Linked DNA regions of Homo sapiens: region 1 is linked to region 2. The links come from fine-mapping of genetic effects on gene expression. Tissue or cell type: whole blood. Region 2 holds a variant in brackets; the other region holds the start of a gene. All regions are shown on one strand. Distances are between the middles of the regions.

Evidence for each region. PIP is the estimated chance that this variant, and not a neighbour inherited with it, causes the effect.
Region 1: MAP2K6 starts here. The variant in region 2 is fine-mapped to the expression of MAP2K6 in whole blood (TOPMed, PIP 0.98).

What each region holds. Positions count from the first base shown.
Region 1 is chr17:69,410,544-69,418,651 of GRCh38, forward strand. It overlaps MAP2K6 (mitogen-activated protein kinase kinase 6), which reads left to right and starts at 4,154. Exons shown (of 12, transcript NM_002758.4): 1 at 4,154-4,457. The coding sequence starts at 4,442.
Region 2 is chr17:69,497,481-69,505,588 of GRCh38, forward strand. The region is part of intron 1 of MAP2K6 (mitogen-activated protein kinase kinase 6); the gene reads left to right. Among named protein-coding and RNA genes, the nearest start is that of MAP2K6-AS1, 16 kb to the left of the region's middle. RefSeq lists enhancers at 6,483-6,532, 6,603-6,662. The variant C/T (reference allele first, on the strand shown) is at 4,075.

The DNA of each region.
Region 1 (8,108 bases), 87 kb before region 2:
GTCAGGAGTTAAAGACCAGCCTGGCCAACATGGTGAAACCCTTTCTCTACTAAAAATACAAAAATTAGCTGGATGTGGTGGTGCACACCTGTAATCCCAGCTACTCAGGAGGTTGAGGCAGGAGAATTGCTTGAACCTGGGAGGTGGAGGTTGCAGTGAGCAAAGATCATGCCATTGCAACAGAGCAAGACTGTCTCAAAAAAAAAAAAAAAAAAAAAGAGAGAGAGAGCGAGCATGAGAGCATGTACCTAATGGCAAGGAGTGAGAAAAGCTGCCTTCTCCTGACTCTAATGTCAACATACGATGAGAAATGAAGCTGGAGATAAAGCAGGGCCCAGGTCTTGAGGAACCAATTATACCATGCCATGGAGTTTGGAATAGATCCTGAGTATATTTAGAAACTGAGAGGAGAGTGCATCTGACTTGCATTTTAGAAAGATCTGAAGTACAGAAAATTACAAAGATTGGTGCCTGTAATCCCAGCACTTTTGGAGGCTGAGGCAGAAGGATTGCTTGAAGCCAGGACTTTGAGACCAGCCTGGGCAACGCAGCAACTCTGTCTCTACAATAAAAAATAACAAAAATTAGCTGGGCATGGTAGCTCACGCTTGCAGTCCCAGCTACTTGGGAGACTGAGGTGGGAGGATCTCTTGAGCCCAGGAGTTTGAGGCTACAGTGACCTATATGATCAGGCCACTGCACTCCAGCTTGGAAGACAAAGCAAGACCCTTGTCCCTAAAAACAAACAAACAAACATAGCTGGGCTTGGTGGCATGCACCTATAATCCCTGCTACTCTGGAGGTTGAGGTGGGAGAATCTGGGAGGTGGAGGCTGCAGTGAGCTGAGATCATGACACTGCACTCCAGGCTGGGCGACAGAGTGAGACTCTGTCTCAAAAAATTAAAAAAAAAAATAAAAACAAACAAACAATTAAAAAGATGGGGGAGGCCAGGCGCGGTGGTTCACGTCTGTAATCCCAACACTTTGCAAAGCCAAGGTGGGTGGATCACTTGGGGTCAGGAGTTTGAGACCCCCTGACCAACACGGTGAAACACTGTCTCTATTACAAATGCAAAAATTAGCTGGGTGTTGTGGTGAGCTCCTGTAACATCAGCCATTCGGGAGGCTAAGGCAGGAGAATCGCTTGAACCTGAGGGGTGGAGGTTGCAGGGAGCCGAGATTGCGCCACTGCACTACAGCCTGGGTGACAGAGCGAGGACTCATCTCAAAAAAAAAAAAAAAAAAAAAAAAAAAAAAGATGGGGGATTTAAAACAGAAGCATGGGCCACCTGAAGATGAACACTTGATGTGCATATAAAAGGAGACACCTGCCAGAATTCACTCCTGCCTTCTTACGCCACAATGGGGAGGATTCTCCTCCTAGTACCAATGATACCACGAAGACTGGCAGGAAGAAGAGCACAGGTACCTCCTCTTCCACCACCCACGTATGTGGGAGAGGAAACTTTTGAACACCAAGGCAGGAAGAAGAACTTTTTCTTCTGGGAACCAAGACTTCACAGAGAGGTTGAGTTCCCTGTCATCCCAATTTCCTACTTGAAATTCAGGATACATTTTTCCCAGAAAGAAATATGATACAAAATTTTGCTATTTTTAAACGGATGATTCAGCCAATTTATGGATGAGAGGTGTTTTGTGTATGCATGTGTGCTTGTGTGTGTATATTAGCTGCTGAACATATTGTTGGTGCTATGGGAAAATGAATTGCAGATTGACTTTCAAGCTACAATCCATTTGCCAGCTGTGGACTCCGCACGCCTATGCAGAGAAAGTAAGAGCAGTAATGACAGTGGCAAAATGCACCAGACAAGTTGTGATTAGAACTCTTCCATAAAGAAGGGAGTCTGGGGCTACTTAAGAGCAATGCAGCTGACCACATAAAATGCAAATTGAAGCAAGCTCTAGGTGGCTGTTCAGGCCCTGCCTGGGCTAAGCCAGTTTACAGAAAGCTCCAGCAGCTATCCCAGGGCCTGGCTCCATCAGTGTTTGGGAAAGTGAACTAGATTTTCACACGTGTCTCCTGGTTAAATGAGACTTAGGAAACCATGCTGGTTTGAGGGGGTGCTGAGCTTGTGTGTATACGATAGGAGGGAAGGGACAACATGGATTAGCCTAGAAGGACAATAAAAGAGTTAGAAAGTCCTTGCACCTGTGTTCACAGACCAGCAATGCCTTCCTCTTAGGGGCAGAAGCTAATATGGAGATTAGATTGCCTTCACTAATTGTCAAGAATGTCAGTAAAGGGGACCAACTTAAGTAAATTAATGTTAGTCTCACAACCTATTGCATATTTAAGATTTGATTTGCTGGTTTGCAGCTGAAATAAGACGGCTTCCTTCCCTCTAATGCATCCCTTATGCAGATGGTCCTGGCTTCCAGCATCCTAAATACAATTCCAATAGTTTTCATTAGTAATCATCAAATCTAGCTGAATCTTCTTTCAAAGTGCCTCTTTTTGCCTTTCACTACTGACCTAACCTATCTCTAGCCTCTCCCAGTTCCAACCCACCTTGATTGCTGAGGGCAAATTTACTTTCTTAAAACAATGCTTGGATTAAGTTACGCCCCTTTGCAAGACCCTTTCACCTCCCCGCAAGTACCTGCAGAATAAAGTCCAAACCTCTAGCCCACCTTTTAAGGCCCTGTGGAGTCCTCACCTGTAAATCTCCCCCGCCCTCACCACTCCTGCACACAAGGCAACAAGGTCTCCTTGGCAGCTTCTGAGTAAGGTTGTCCTTATTTCTGCCACAGTGCTTTGTCCACACCTCCTTGAATTCCTCAATTCCTCCCTCTGTCTTAAAAGAACATTTCTGAGTCTGTCTGCTCCATGAAGTATAAGTCCGAGCTCATTTTTGCCCATGCCCTGCTCACTCCTCTCCATTCCTTGCAGTGAATTGTGCTAAGCATCTCTGGCTTCCTTGTGAAAAAGGTGATGCCGTTCTCCATCAGGGTGCTGTGTACCCACTATGTGTGAGCGGTACAGAATGAATGAACATCCCAGGGCCCTAGAAAGGCGCCTGGCACATCCTGGACACTCAACAAGTATCTTTTAATTTTAATGAATAAATTCAAGATATTCGACTGTATTCATTTTCCACCCACTTTCCCCCTAGGCCAGGGACTCTCCTCCCAGGTGAGAAAAAATCATCTAGATACCTTAATTTTGATAAAGTTAGCGTTGATGTATAAAAAGCAGAACTTCCTCTGTAACCCTGTGAGAAATGAGAAGCCTCCAATCTTCTTCCCCACACCTACCCCCTACTGAGTTTCGGGTTCCTTGGAAATAACTGACCTGGATTGTTTCTGACAAAATAAAACTTTGCATCTTCTCCACAGAGCAAAGGTAACCTTACCTCCAGCCAACCCAATCATCCATACATTTTTCTTACTAGAAAAAATGTTTTTAAAAATGGAGGTGTGGCCGGGCGCGGTGGCTCACGCCTGTAATCCCAGCACTTTGGGAGGCCGAGGTGGGCGGATCATAAGGTCAGGAGTTCGAGACCAGCCTGGCTAAATGTTGACACCCCGTCTCTACTAAAAATTAGCCGGGCGTGGTGGCGCATACCTGTAATCCCAGCTACTTGGGAGGCTAAGGCAGGAGAATTGCTTGAACCCGGGAGGCGGAGGTTGCAGTGAGCAGAGATCGCGCCACTGCACTCCAGCCTGGGCGACAGAGCGAGACTCCCTCTCGGGAAAAAAACAACAACAACAACAACAAAAAAACCCCCAAACAAACAAAAAACGGAGGTGTGAGGGTAAAACGTCTACAGGCAAGAACAGCACAACAGGTGCTGAGCTGCAAAATCAACACACTAAACTCCCAAACAGACCTTCTCGACAAGCCAAAAGCTCTTTAGCTAACCTAATATTCTTTAGCTGTTGTTTCAGAGGCTTTTCGAGAACAAAACTGCCGCCCCGTCTTGGCCTTGCCGCTTTTCACCCATCACTCTACTGAGTGTGTGTCTGACTTGTTTATCTGGACGCAATCTTTGTCGCACCCAGTTATCTCGCTCAGCGACCGGGGCGACCACGTTTCCTTAAATCAGAGCCCCGTGGACTCCGCCGGAGAACTACATTACCCAGCGGCCTTCGCGCCCTTCGCAGGAAGGACGTCTGCGCACTAAGATACTCAGTTCCAAGTTTGGAGCTTTTAGCTGCCAGCCCTGGCCCATCATGTAGCTGCAGCACAGCCTTCCCTAACGTTGCAACTGGGGGAAAAATCACTTTCCAGTCTGTTTTGCAAGGTGTGCATTTCCATCTTGATTCCCTGAAAGTCCATCTGCTGCATCGGTCAAGAGAAACTCCACTTGCATGAAGATTGCACGCCTGCAGCTTGCATCTTTGTTGCAAAACTAGCTACAGAAGAGAAGCAAGGCAAAGTCTTTTGTGCTCCCCTCCCCCATCAAAGGAAAGGGGAAAATGTCTCAGTCGAAAGGTAAGAGGCTGTTTGCATTAGTTGCAAAAATGCAAAGGGTTGTGCATGCATTTATGAATGCATGGATGCAATTTTCGCCTGGCGAGTGCATTTTTAAGTTTGAGGTTTTCCACAGCTCAGTTGCATTTCCTGTTTAGTATGTGTCTTTTTTTGCAGACACAGAGAGTTCCTGTAAGGCAGGGCTTGCAGTTCAGCTGTGCATTGACGTTATTTGCATTCTTCTGCTAGGATTACTGAGCTCTTTTTGCCTTTTGCACAGTCAGGAGAGACAGAGCAGGTTGGTAGCGTCTAAATGTGCAAGGCTTTATATAATTGTAAAATTCTTTACTATGCACAGATATTGTAAGTAATTTTGTATGCAACAGGAATAGAAACTTTTAAAAACTCTATAGGTGAAGATGAAAGGTAAAACTTGAGTTAAACTACTAGGAAATTAATGTAATCTTATATTCTTTGGGGGAAATAGACCGTTGCGGTGCCAGTATTTAGCTAAATTTCCATTGATATCGCCTTGAACATTAGGTAACTTTTGATTTTTAAAGGAAGTAAAGGTGAAGGGTGAATAACAGCATATCACAAAAAAGCAGACGAGTCTTGCTCTTCTGAGATTTTGCACTTTACACCAATTGCTTATTGGCTCGCAAAATTTAGAAGCAGCAGTGAAGACCTAATGTTTTATGTCTGCCCATTTGGGGGATGCTTTGCATCTTGGGGGAAAATATTGGGGGTAAAACTGTACTTTTAAGCATTACAGTAGTGTGAAGGGACTGCACTGTTTCATTGACAAGCATAATGAAATATTTTAAGTGTGTAACTGCGTGTATTTAGTCAGCTGTAATAGGTTGGAAGTTCACGTTATGGTTGTTTTCTTTATGTTCTTTTATTTTCTTTTCTTAATTTTTGTTTTTAAACACAGTTGTATTTTGCAGGCTTAATGTCACCCTGGGAAGGGGATTTAAAAAATTCCTGATATGACATCAAAGAGCAGACTAGGTGCTGTCAGGTGCCCCTGGGACCCCAAGTCACTTGTTTCAGAACAATTGTTTCTTTACCATAGAGAAAGCATATGCCATATGAGAAGTATGGGATGATGAAGAGAGGTGTTAGATACTATTGAATTAGGCTACCCGGGGCACTCTTTGAGTAAGACATGGTGAAATTAAAGGGTCTAACAAGCTTTTTGCTACTTTTTTGGGAGGGAGTGTGGGGAGTTGTTGCACCGCTTTTTAATTCTACCTGATGGGAGTCATATATCTCAGCAGCCCAAGAAGGAAGTAGTAATCTCAAGCATTCAAAGTAGCACTCTGCTTTTCTTTGAGTATTAGGGGAGAATGGAAATCTGAAAAGTTAAGAGTGCTGAAGAACCTAGGAATTGACATATCAGGTGGAGATGTTCCTCAAGTGGGGAAAACCTAAAAATCTCCTTATTGAGTAGAGAAATAATAGTTCAGAAGAGGCAGTCCATGCTTTGATGTATTAAAGAGATGGCATTTAGTTACTTTGTATTTGGTAAACATTCGCTCATTCATTCAATTCAGTTTAATATATGTGTAATATATTGTGATATGCATGTATATACATATGTATGTGTGTATATATATGCATGTATATGTATGTATTGTGTGTGTATGTGTGCACATGATTTAGGGACACACAAAAATATTTAAAATGAAGTTTTTCCTTCGGGTTGGTGAAAACAAGAATGTAAGGAAATCATTATAATACAAGATAATAGGACAGGTATTGAAGAGAAATGGTGCTATTGGAGTTTAAAAATGGAAGTGATTTATCTATTTGGGGGATAGTCAGGAAGGTTTATGAAGAGGGTGGTGTTTACTGTGATCTTATCTTTGGACTTTAGGGTCTAAACTAAATCAGGCTCCTTTTTGCATATTTTTGGGCTCACTATGAACGTGGCTCCCTCTTAGTAGAGCCAGTTTTTGAGTTGAGAAGCCAAAGGAGATATTAGCACTGCACTCTTCCCTATGGATGTGTTTACAATGGATCAGGTACTGGTGGTCCTTCAAATCAATTCCCATTTACCCAGATGAGTTTTCTTAATTGGATTCTGCTTGGAAAGTACATCTGGAATGAACATGGGGTTCTTGTCCGAAAGGAAAATTATTGGTAGAAAGAAGTGGGTGATCATTTTAGAAATGGCAAAAGAGCCAGCCGCCTTGGCCTGGACTTTAAATGTGGAATTGGCCTTATTCAGCTACGCTATTCTCAAATGGCCAAAATACTTTTTGCAGTACCAAACTTCTTTTTTAATATTCTAACCCAAGAAATGGGAGGAAAAGTGAAAAGTGGATACAATCTCATAGTATTGAAGAATTTAACAATATGTTCAATTCAAGGACCTTTACGAACTTTCTAGATCACTATAATTCGGTTTAACAGACCTCTAATTTAAGGCACAGCAGAGGCAAAGGAATTACAGACTCTCTGGAAGCTGGAAGGACTGGGTTACTGCTCTACAGCCTTACCAACAGTGAGATTCCGAGAAAGAATTTCTTAAAAAGAAATTTTGTTTTCCACAGTTGTAACTTTAGGTGGTATGCTTTTCAGCTTGTTTATATTAGCTGTCTGGGGTTGAGTTGACATTTTTCAAATATTAAAGCAGTAGAATGCCTTTTGAGGAAATCTGAAATGTAAGTTAACAGGAAGGGCACCCAGAAAGTGCAGGAATTCCTGCACACTACAGGAAGACAAGCTACAGGAAAAATGTGTCATCTACACTACCCGGGAGAGAAAAACTATTGTTATCAGCCATAATGATCTCCGGAGGGAGGGAGAGAAAGAGGGAGGTAGGGAGATCTGGCATCCCCCAGTTCACCTGAAAATACACAAAAAGTTTGACCCTGTTAAAATACACTTTTCTCACTTCTCCTCCTATTCACCTTTAAAAAATATTAGTTTATTTTAGTTTTAGAGAGCAATAAGTAAATCATGTAAGAAATGCCTATGAGGCACAATTCAGAAGCATATAGCAGAGTGGTAGGAAAGGTCTTAACTCTACTGGGGTTCTTTGCTTCTGTAATTCATTCCACCCTTGGGAAATGAAATGTGTAAATTTCTTGTTCTCTATAAATTCCTTTGTTAGGTTGTACCAGACGGACTTGTCATGCTTAGCCTGTAATCTGAGCCAGTATGTTTTATAACCCCGTACATCTCAGGACACAAAATCAGAATAGGTAGCTTGGGTTTCCTGAGCTTGCTTTGTATTAGCATTGCATTCAGTTCTTTAGAGCATGCGGCCTGTTAACTGTAGGGGGCTTCAGGGGTCTCTGGTTGGTAAATTTAATGTTGGAGAAAAGAGTTGAGATTCTCTTGTCTTTGTTTTTCAGATTAGTGTTACTTTAATGACTCCCCAGTATTTTAAAATCTGAAAGATCTACAAGGAATATTTTTAAAACTTAAAAGAAATTTCATAAATAACCCTTGTTCATTATAGAAACATTTCATAGAAAAGGAAAAATAAGAATGACTAGTTACTGCAGTCTACACTTTGGCATTTATTCTCTTGGACTTTTTTTTTCTATCTATGTGTATGAAGCATCCAAAATGTGTGTAAAACTAAGTCTATTTCGTTCCCTCTTGTTTCACTTACCAATATATGGCAAAATATTCCCAAGTTTATATATTTCTACA
Region 2 (8,108 bases):
TCAAAACATCCTGATATTATTAGATCAGTTCATCTTGTTACATCTTTTTTTTTTTCTGAAGCATGGATGTGGCATGATGTTCCTCTACTGAAAAACATACATGACTTCTCTTTTTACATCTGAAATTTAAAATATATTTGTTACAGTATTTTGATCTCTGACTCCAACTTCCTCCTCCAGGTTTCTCTCTCCACCACTTTTCAGTTTGTCCAGAGTAGAAAACTCAGAATTCTTTGAATATACCACAGTGCTTCTCCTTACAAAGATATTTCATCCTCATTTTACTTTGAATCCCCTTATTGTCTCTCCAAGTCTTGATTGTCAAAATCCCACCCATGGTCTTTTTAAACTTTGATTTTGGAAATATTTAAATATATAAAGAAGACATACAGTATAACAAACCCTCAGGTACCCTTAAATCCTACCAAAATCAAAGGGCCACTTCAAATACCACTTCGTATGTGAGACCATTTCTCAGTGTTGCTTGTCTTGCTTCTTCTCTCCTGCTTTCAGGGTGCAATGCTTGTATTGCACATCACACATACCCGCTGTTATTATGGAGTTGGGTTTTCATATCTCCTGATGCTTCGATGGCAGAATTGCATCTTAATAAGTTTTGACCCTTGCAATGTGTACCCTGGGGAATGATTGACAATTTCAGCTCAAAGATAGAGATAACACAGTGAGGAGCTAGCTTGGAATTTAATTCTTACTAATCAGAAAGAACTGGTGGGTTGTGGGGGATGTGACAAGAGCCTTGGAGGAAAGTGACGTTGGCAACATAAAGTGAGAAATGGTAAAACAAGACAAACAAACAAACAAACAAACACAAAACAACTTTACATAGACATGTGGTAGACAAGGGCTACTTAACTGTGGCTGATTTCTCAGACACTTGTGAAACTTAAAAAAATATATGGATCCTGAAGCCTCACTCTATCAACTTAGCTGGTAACTACTGTCCCCAGTAGCTGAGAGACCTGGACAAAAGGGCATCAGCAGGGGACCCACCTGCATGGGTCCTTTTGGGGCAGTTTCACCCATAGGGATAGGATTGCAAGTGTGGCTTCAGTGACACAACTACAATGTGAGATTTTAAGACTTTTTAGCACTTAGAGACTCTGTATGGCACCCAGCACGCCTGGAAGCCACACACACACACCTGGAAGCCACACACACACACACACACACACACACACACACACGTGCACGCAGAGAGAGAGAGAAGGGACCACTGAGCCAATGTCTTTATTGGGTACAGGGCGTTATCCAGTTTCCTGCAGGGAGCTTTAATTGCTGGGTTTAAAGCAAGCAGGCACTAGTTCTAGGAGGTCACAGCGTGACTGAGAGGTGGTCACCTTACGTTTGTGGGCAAATGTCTGCATGGTCTGTTTAAAGGGAGTGGCAGGAAAGTAGGGAGGCCAGCCTGCTAGGCAGGAGAGATGTCTCTAAGTTTCATGTCTGGCCACTGGTTTGGAGCCAATCTGGTGGAGTGTGGTATTAGACACCGTGTTAAGAGTGACTGAGCCCTGCTTCTGATGTGAGATAGTTTAACTTAGGTTTAAAAATGGATACTGAGGCAATGTAAAATTATAAGCACTCACTACACTCAGTCCCAGAAATCCTGAGTCTATAGACCTGGAGAAGTTCCCATAGTCAGTGGGCACAAAGAGAGGTAGATTCAAGATTGATGAGATGTTTGAAAAATGTAATTCTAGTGTAAATAACACGAAAGAGGGAGAATGGAGCACGGAATTTGAAGAAATAAGATGCCATCCAGGGAACATTCTGCTTAACTCATATTTTAAAAATGTAAGCGTAAACATGGAAGGGACAAAAGGAAGTATTTATTGAGCACCTATATTATGCTACACCCTGCTAGGCTTCTTCACACACACTGTGTCAATCGAGTCTCTTAATGACCTGCGGAGATTGTACATCATCTCCAGTTTGCAGGTGTGGAAACTCAGTTTAAGATAAGAAACTTTCTCAACATTACGTCACTAAGTGGGACAGCTGGGATTTGAAATGATTCTTATTGATGCAGAGGTTTGTGCAATTTCCATTCCATTCTTGGTTGTTCATTTTGTTTGTTTGTTTTTTGAAGAGCTCTGTACAAATGTTCAAAACAGTTGAGAAAAGAATAACAAACATTCAGTCAACAAATATTTATGATGTGCAGGTGCTGGGCAAAATCATTGGCCATCATGGAACTTATATTCTAGTGGAGAAAGGTAGATAAACAAGTAATAAATAAATGCAGAAGTAAATAAATAAATACAAAAATAAAATAATTCTAGATTGTGAGAAAAGGTTTGCGGGAAATGAGTGGAAGATGGTCGTGGAGATCTATTGTAGAGAGAGTGGACATTTTTCAACTAAAATATCAAAGTTTCAGGGAAGCTGCTTTGAGCTCATATTGTGTTGCAGGCTGAGTGTAAGGTGCCAGAATGTGAAAGCAGGAATGTGTGGATAGTAATCCTTAGATTGTGTTCAGGAAGCTCTGGGAAGGTTCTATGAGGGAGGTTTTGAATTTGGAAGGTTGAGTTCTTGTCTGCAAGACAGCTAGAGCCCTCCAGGTAGAAGGAACAGTATGAGCAAAGGTAAGGTCTTAGGAGATTCATTCTGACTCTGAAATCAAACTGACTGCAGGTTTTAAAATGAGCTTTTCAGCTGGGCACAGTGGCTCACACCTGTAATCCCAGTAACAGCACTTTGGGAGGCTAAGGCGGGCGGATAACCTGAGGTCAGAAGTTTGAGATTAGCCTGGTCAACATGGCGAAACCCCATCTCTACTAAAAATACAAAAATTAGGCGGGTGGGGTGGCACGTGCCTGTATTCCCAGTCGCAGCTACTCGGGAGGCTGAGGGCCATGAGAATTGCTTGAACGTGGGAAGCAGAGGTTTCGGTGAGCCTAGATAGGACCACTGCACTCCAGCCTGGGTGACAAAGTGAGACTCTGTCTCAAAAAAAAAAAAAAAAAAAAAAAAAAAGGCCGGCCATGGTGGCTCACGCCTATAATCCCAGCACTTTGGGAGGCTGAGGCAGGTGGATCACGAGGTCAGGAGTTCAAGACCAGCCTGACCAACATGGTGAAACCCCATCTGTACTAAAAAATACAACAATTAGTTGGGCGTGATGGCGGGCACCTGTAATCCCAGCTACTCAGGAGGCTGAGGCAGGAGAATCACACAAAGCCGGGAGGCGGAGGTTGCAGTGAGCTGACATTGTGCCACTGTACTCCAGGCTGGGTGACAGAGCAAGATTCCATCTCAAAAAAAAAAGAAAAAAAAAAAGAGGTTTTCAGCTTTTCTTCTCTAAACTTTCTGTAATTCCAGAGAGATTTGTCTTCAGTGTTTGGAATCTCAGTGGTATATAAGAGCCAGTGGTTTTGGAAGATTGGAGGATGGCAGAGTCCCTGTTCACTTTTACATTGCTGTTGCAAAGCCAGCTTTCTTCCTGCATGCCTCTTCCCCTGCCCTGCTTCGTTCGTTGCTTTGCATATGATGATTGCAATTTAATAACACTGAATGATACTTCACTGCTGGTTTTATTGCCAACTACCCTTGGAACGTAAGCCTAGATGCAAGTAGTAAGGAGAGGGCAGCCAAGGCCTCTAGATTGCCAGTTACTTGGCTGGAAATCCCATTCATATTGGGAAACAGATTTTTAAAATAAATTTGGCACTGGAAACACTGCCATCCTTTTGTGAAGCTGTGTCAATAATCATAAACTCTCATAGTCGTGCCCCCAACCCTCGGCCAAGCTAACAAATATTTAGGCATCAGCATATCTTCACGATGCCACCTTCTGTTGACCGCGTGGGCTTCTCATGCTGTTTGGGTTGGCAGTGGAACATAATCTTCTGTTTTATGTAATGAGGAACATCAGAGGAGTGCTTTGTGCTTACCCTCTCAGAGTGTGTGCAAGACCTCTCGTGTACCCCATCATTTTCGGTGCAGTCAAAGCTAGCGAACATTTCTGTGGCCTGGTAAATATTTTCTAACTATTGGCAAGGCTTTTTAAATTTTTTTTTCCAGTGCCATTTTGCTCCAGGCCAGGATTATAATGAC[C/T]CAGCTTTGCTTTGGTTTCAGATGAATTTTGCAAATATATGTGTGTGGTGGGATTACACTATTTTCAGAGAACACAGTCATGCGGGTAACAGGGTCTGATGCAATATAGTGCTGCATATGCCCAATCAGGCCGACGAGGCTTACCCTTTGCAGACTGTGCCAATAAGCAGTCGAGGCTTGTTGCGATCTGCAGAAATCTACAGAATTCTCTGTTTCCGAGAAGGCTTGTTGCTAGCATATGACATCATAGAAAGCCTTTTTTTTTTTCTGACATTTTTTCTGCTTTGCTTTAGAATATCAAAGGCAAAGACTGTTGAACATAGTTGGCCACTTAGCTTTATTATTCATAGTGCTCCCTCCCATGTTTTTTTTTTTTTTTTTTTAACAGTGTTCAATGTTAGCGTCAGGTGTTGGCTGCCTTCCTGGGGGAACAGATTGCTGTGAAGTAAACACAGCTGGAAACTGACCACATATTGTTTTTCTTTCTTTTAAGAAATCAAAGAGGCATTTATAGAAAAGCTGCAGAACATGGTACTGTCCAGATTTATAGATTTATTCCTCCAAGTCTGGTTAATGATTAATGTCACGCCTGGGTGTCCACATAGACCCACTTCCCTTCTCCCTTCCTGAAGCTGCAATTTCCTCGGAACAATGAGCTTGCAGAGGTTTGCTGCAATCCGAACTTGAGGAGGGGGTGGAGTCTGTTCAGTTCTGTTTCTCCTTGCCGAAGTGTGGTCTTTGGAGCTAAGTGAAGAATGACTTCTGTTAGGTTTTCCTCTGCTGGTCTTCCTTGCAGCCTCGAAAACCTCACCAGAGTCGCCTCTGCTGGTCTCTTACTGTGCTGCTCTGTCAGAGATGGGCAAGTAAGCGAACTGCAGAGTGTTGCTGTGTGTGCTTGTGATTTGTATTTTATTTGATGTAAACGTGAAGGCAGAGTATTTTCTAACACTGTAATTCAACTAGGTTTTGTGTCTCCTGGATCTATTTTTTTTTCTTGTTGTTCTGAGGAGCTGATATACTTGGAAATATTAGGTTTAAGATATGCAGATGTCCAACTTATATACATAGTCAAGGGTTTAGAGTCTGGAGACAGGAGGCTGGCAATTTCAACTAGGAGGCAGTAAATTCAGGGTAAGAATGATGTTGATGTGGGGGGCTGTGGGGGTGGCTGGGTGTAACAGTGATCTGGGGAGAGAATCAAAGGCCTTCTCCTCCCACTTGGAAGACTTTACTATTATTTTGGTCTTTTATTCCTTTGGTCTCTGTGCTAAAAACTTTCTCTCTTTTTTACTGTTTCTTTGTATAGATGTTTTGGTGATTTAAGTTATGGTGTAATAATTAATTGCTGTTAAGAATTGCTACTAATTACTTGCTATATTAAAGTTTTCCAAAGGGGTTTTCTCAATAAATAGCTATTTCTCTTTACATCTATCTTGTAAGAACTGAGTTAGAGGTAAAGAAGAGAAAGATGTAGGAATTTAAGAGTAACTTCTGCTTTTGGTTTGCTTAAATGACAACTGGAGACCAGTTTTCATAGGCAAAATATATGTTACTTTAGTTTTTGTTTTCGTTGAGAGAACTGTAGGGTCGCCTTTTGGGATTACCTGAATTATCTGTCACCTGCACTGGAATTTGTATGTAGTTATCTGTATAGTTATCTAAACAAGTTGAATCCGTCATTCATTCCTCACTGAAGAATCTCATCGAAAGTAACATTCCCTGTCTGTTTGGCTGAGGTGCATGGATGGGAATTGTTGGAATTAGGCCATATATCTATTTGGATTCTCATAACTGGGTCCAGCACCTAGCATAGTTCCTGGTACATAGGAAAGCTCTATGCGATGTCAATAACTGACTAATTTAGTAACATCCTTAACAGCTGTTTGAGTTCCAAGAGCAGGAAAGTGAATGGTGAGTTTTGAACCTTATAAAATACATAAGTAAACCCAAATGAGGAGAGAATTGAGAAAGCCTCTTATTCTGAAGGTGGTCCTAAAAGGCTTTCTCTAGGCTGATTACTGCGAAGCATATTTTTTCCTGGCTATATACAACTTGGCAGAATTGATCTGATTTTGGATTCTGAAGGAATTGAAAAATTTCATTATACATTATAGTGGGCTATAATGATGTGGCCAGTTCTCTTCATTAATTTTTTAAATGACTTTAAAAAAAATGAGACAGTACTGATTGTTTCCCTAAATGAATCTAATTAACAGCTACTTAAGGTATCTTAATGTTTTTTCATATATGTTATCTGCTTTGATTCTCATATCAGTCCAGTGAGGTGAGTATGGTTGTTACTTCCTCATTTTACAATTGAGAAAACTGAGAGTCAGATGAAAAGTGATTCTAGAAGTTGCGTGATGCGTGGAAGAACCAGATGTCAGCTGGGTATTTTAAAACTCAAAATCCCGGGTACGTCTCACCTGCCCCCTCTCCAGTCATCTCTAAACGTCTTCTATTGCAGGATAGTAGAAAGAACTCCCACCTGGGTGTCAGGAGACCTGGATTCTGATTCTGACTGGGTCATTGCTGACCTCTGTGATGTGGAGCAAGTCACTGAAGTCTTTGGATGTTATTTTTCTGCAAGGAGGTTATTTTAATTGGTTTAAGTTTCTTTGCAGCTTCAGGATCTATCCAGGGCCATATCCAGGGCTTGTGTTATCTCTGAGTGCTCATCTGCAATGTAGAGAAGAGGTGGGAAAGGAGGTAGGATTCTTTTTTTTTCTTTTTTTTTTTGAGACAGAGTCTTGCACTGTCGCCCAGGCTGGAGTGCAGTGGTGTGATCTCAGCTCACTGCAAGCTCCGCCTCCCAGGTTCACGCCATTCTCCTGCCTCAGCCTCCCCTGTAGCTGGGACTACAGGTGCCTGCCACCATGCCCGGCTAATTTATTGTATTTTTAGTAGAGACAGGATTTCACCGTGTCGGCCAGGATGGTCTCCATCTCCTGACCTCGTGATTCGCCCGTCTCGGCCTCCCAAAGTGCTGGGACTACAGGCATGAGCCACCGCGCCTGGGCAGAAGGTAGCATTCTTTCCAGCCATTCTATGCAGCTCTCCCTTGGTTTCCCCTGCCAAGTGCAAAGAGACACAGGATCTCCATGCATGAGGAAAACCCCAGGCCCTTGTTTGCTCTGTTCTGCTTCCTGAGCTGGCATTTCTCAGTCTGTTCTTTTTTACTCATCAACAAAAGTATTCGAGCCAAATTCTCTTGTAATTTCAGCCCAGGTGTGATCAACATCAAGTTACCTTTCCATTTGGCCCAAGAAGAAGTTATAACTTCCTTGCATAAGCTCATCTGTTATCTTAATCCTTTCTGGAACAGGGAAAATGTAAATAAGTATTACTCTATCCCTCTCTTAAGTTTTTCAAATTACAGCAGGTGGTTGGGAAAAGGGGAGGGCAGAACAGTGGAAAAGCATTTTTTATTCTACTTCCATTGCTAACTTTGTAGTAGTTAACAGATCGATTTAGAAAATAGTGGGTTACTAAGATAAGGGTGACCACCCTTTACTAACACTAAAAAGAAAAAAAAAAAGCTATAACCAAGTGTCTGCCATCACCATTATAGTGTAAAAGAAAAAAAAAACAAAAACAAAAAACAAGGCCAGGCATGGTGGCTCATGCCTGTAATCCCAGCACTTTGGGAGACCAAGGTCAGCGGATCACCTGAGGTCAGGAGTTCGAGACCAGCCTGGCCAACAGGGAGAAACCCCCATCTCTACTAAAAATATAAAAATTAGCCGGGCATGGTGGTGCATGCCTGTAATCCCAGCTCCTCAGGAGGCTGAGGTAGGAGAATCGCTTGAATCCAGGAGGCAGAAGTTGCAGTGGGCTGAGATTGTGCCACTGTACTCCAGCCTGGGTGACAGAGTGAGACTCTGTCTCAAAAAAAAAAAAAAAAAAAAAAGTTGCAATGACAAATTCTCAGTGGGGAGAAAGGGCAGATCTTCCTAGGAAAAGAGAGTTGGCATTCTCATCCTGATGTTTGCCCCCTGGACTAATGAAAAACCTCATTCATGACCACAGTCTGT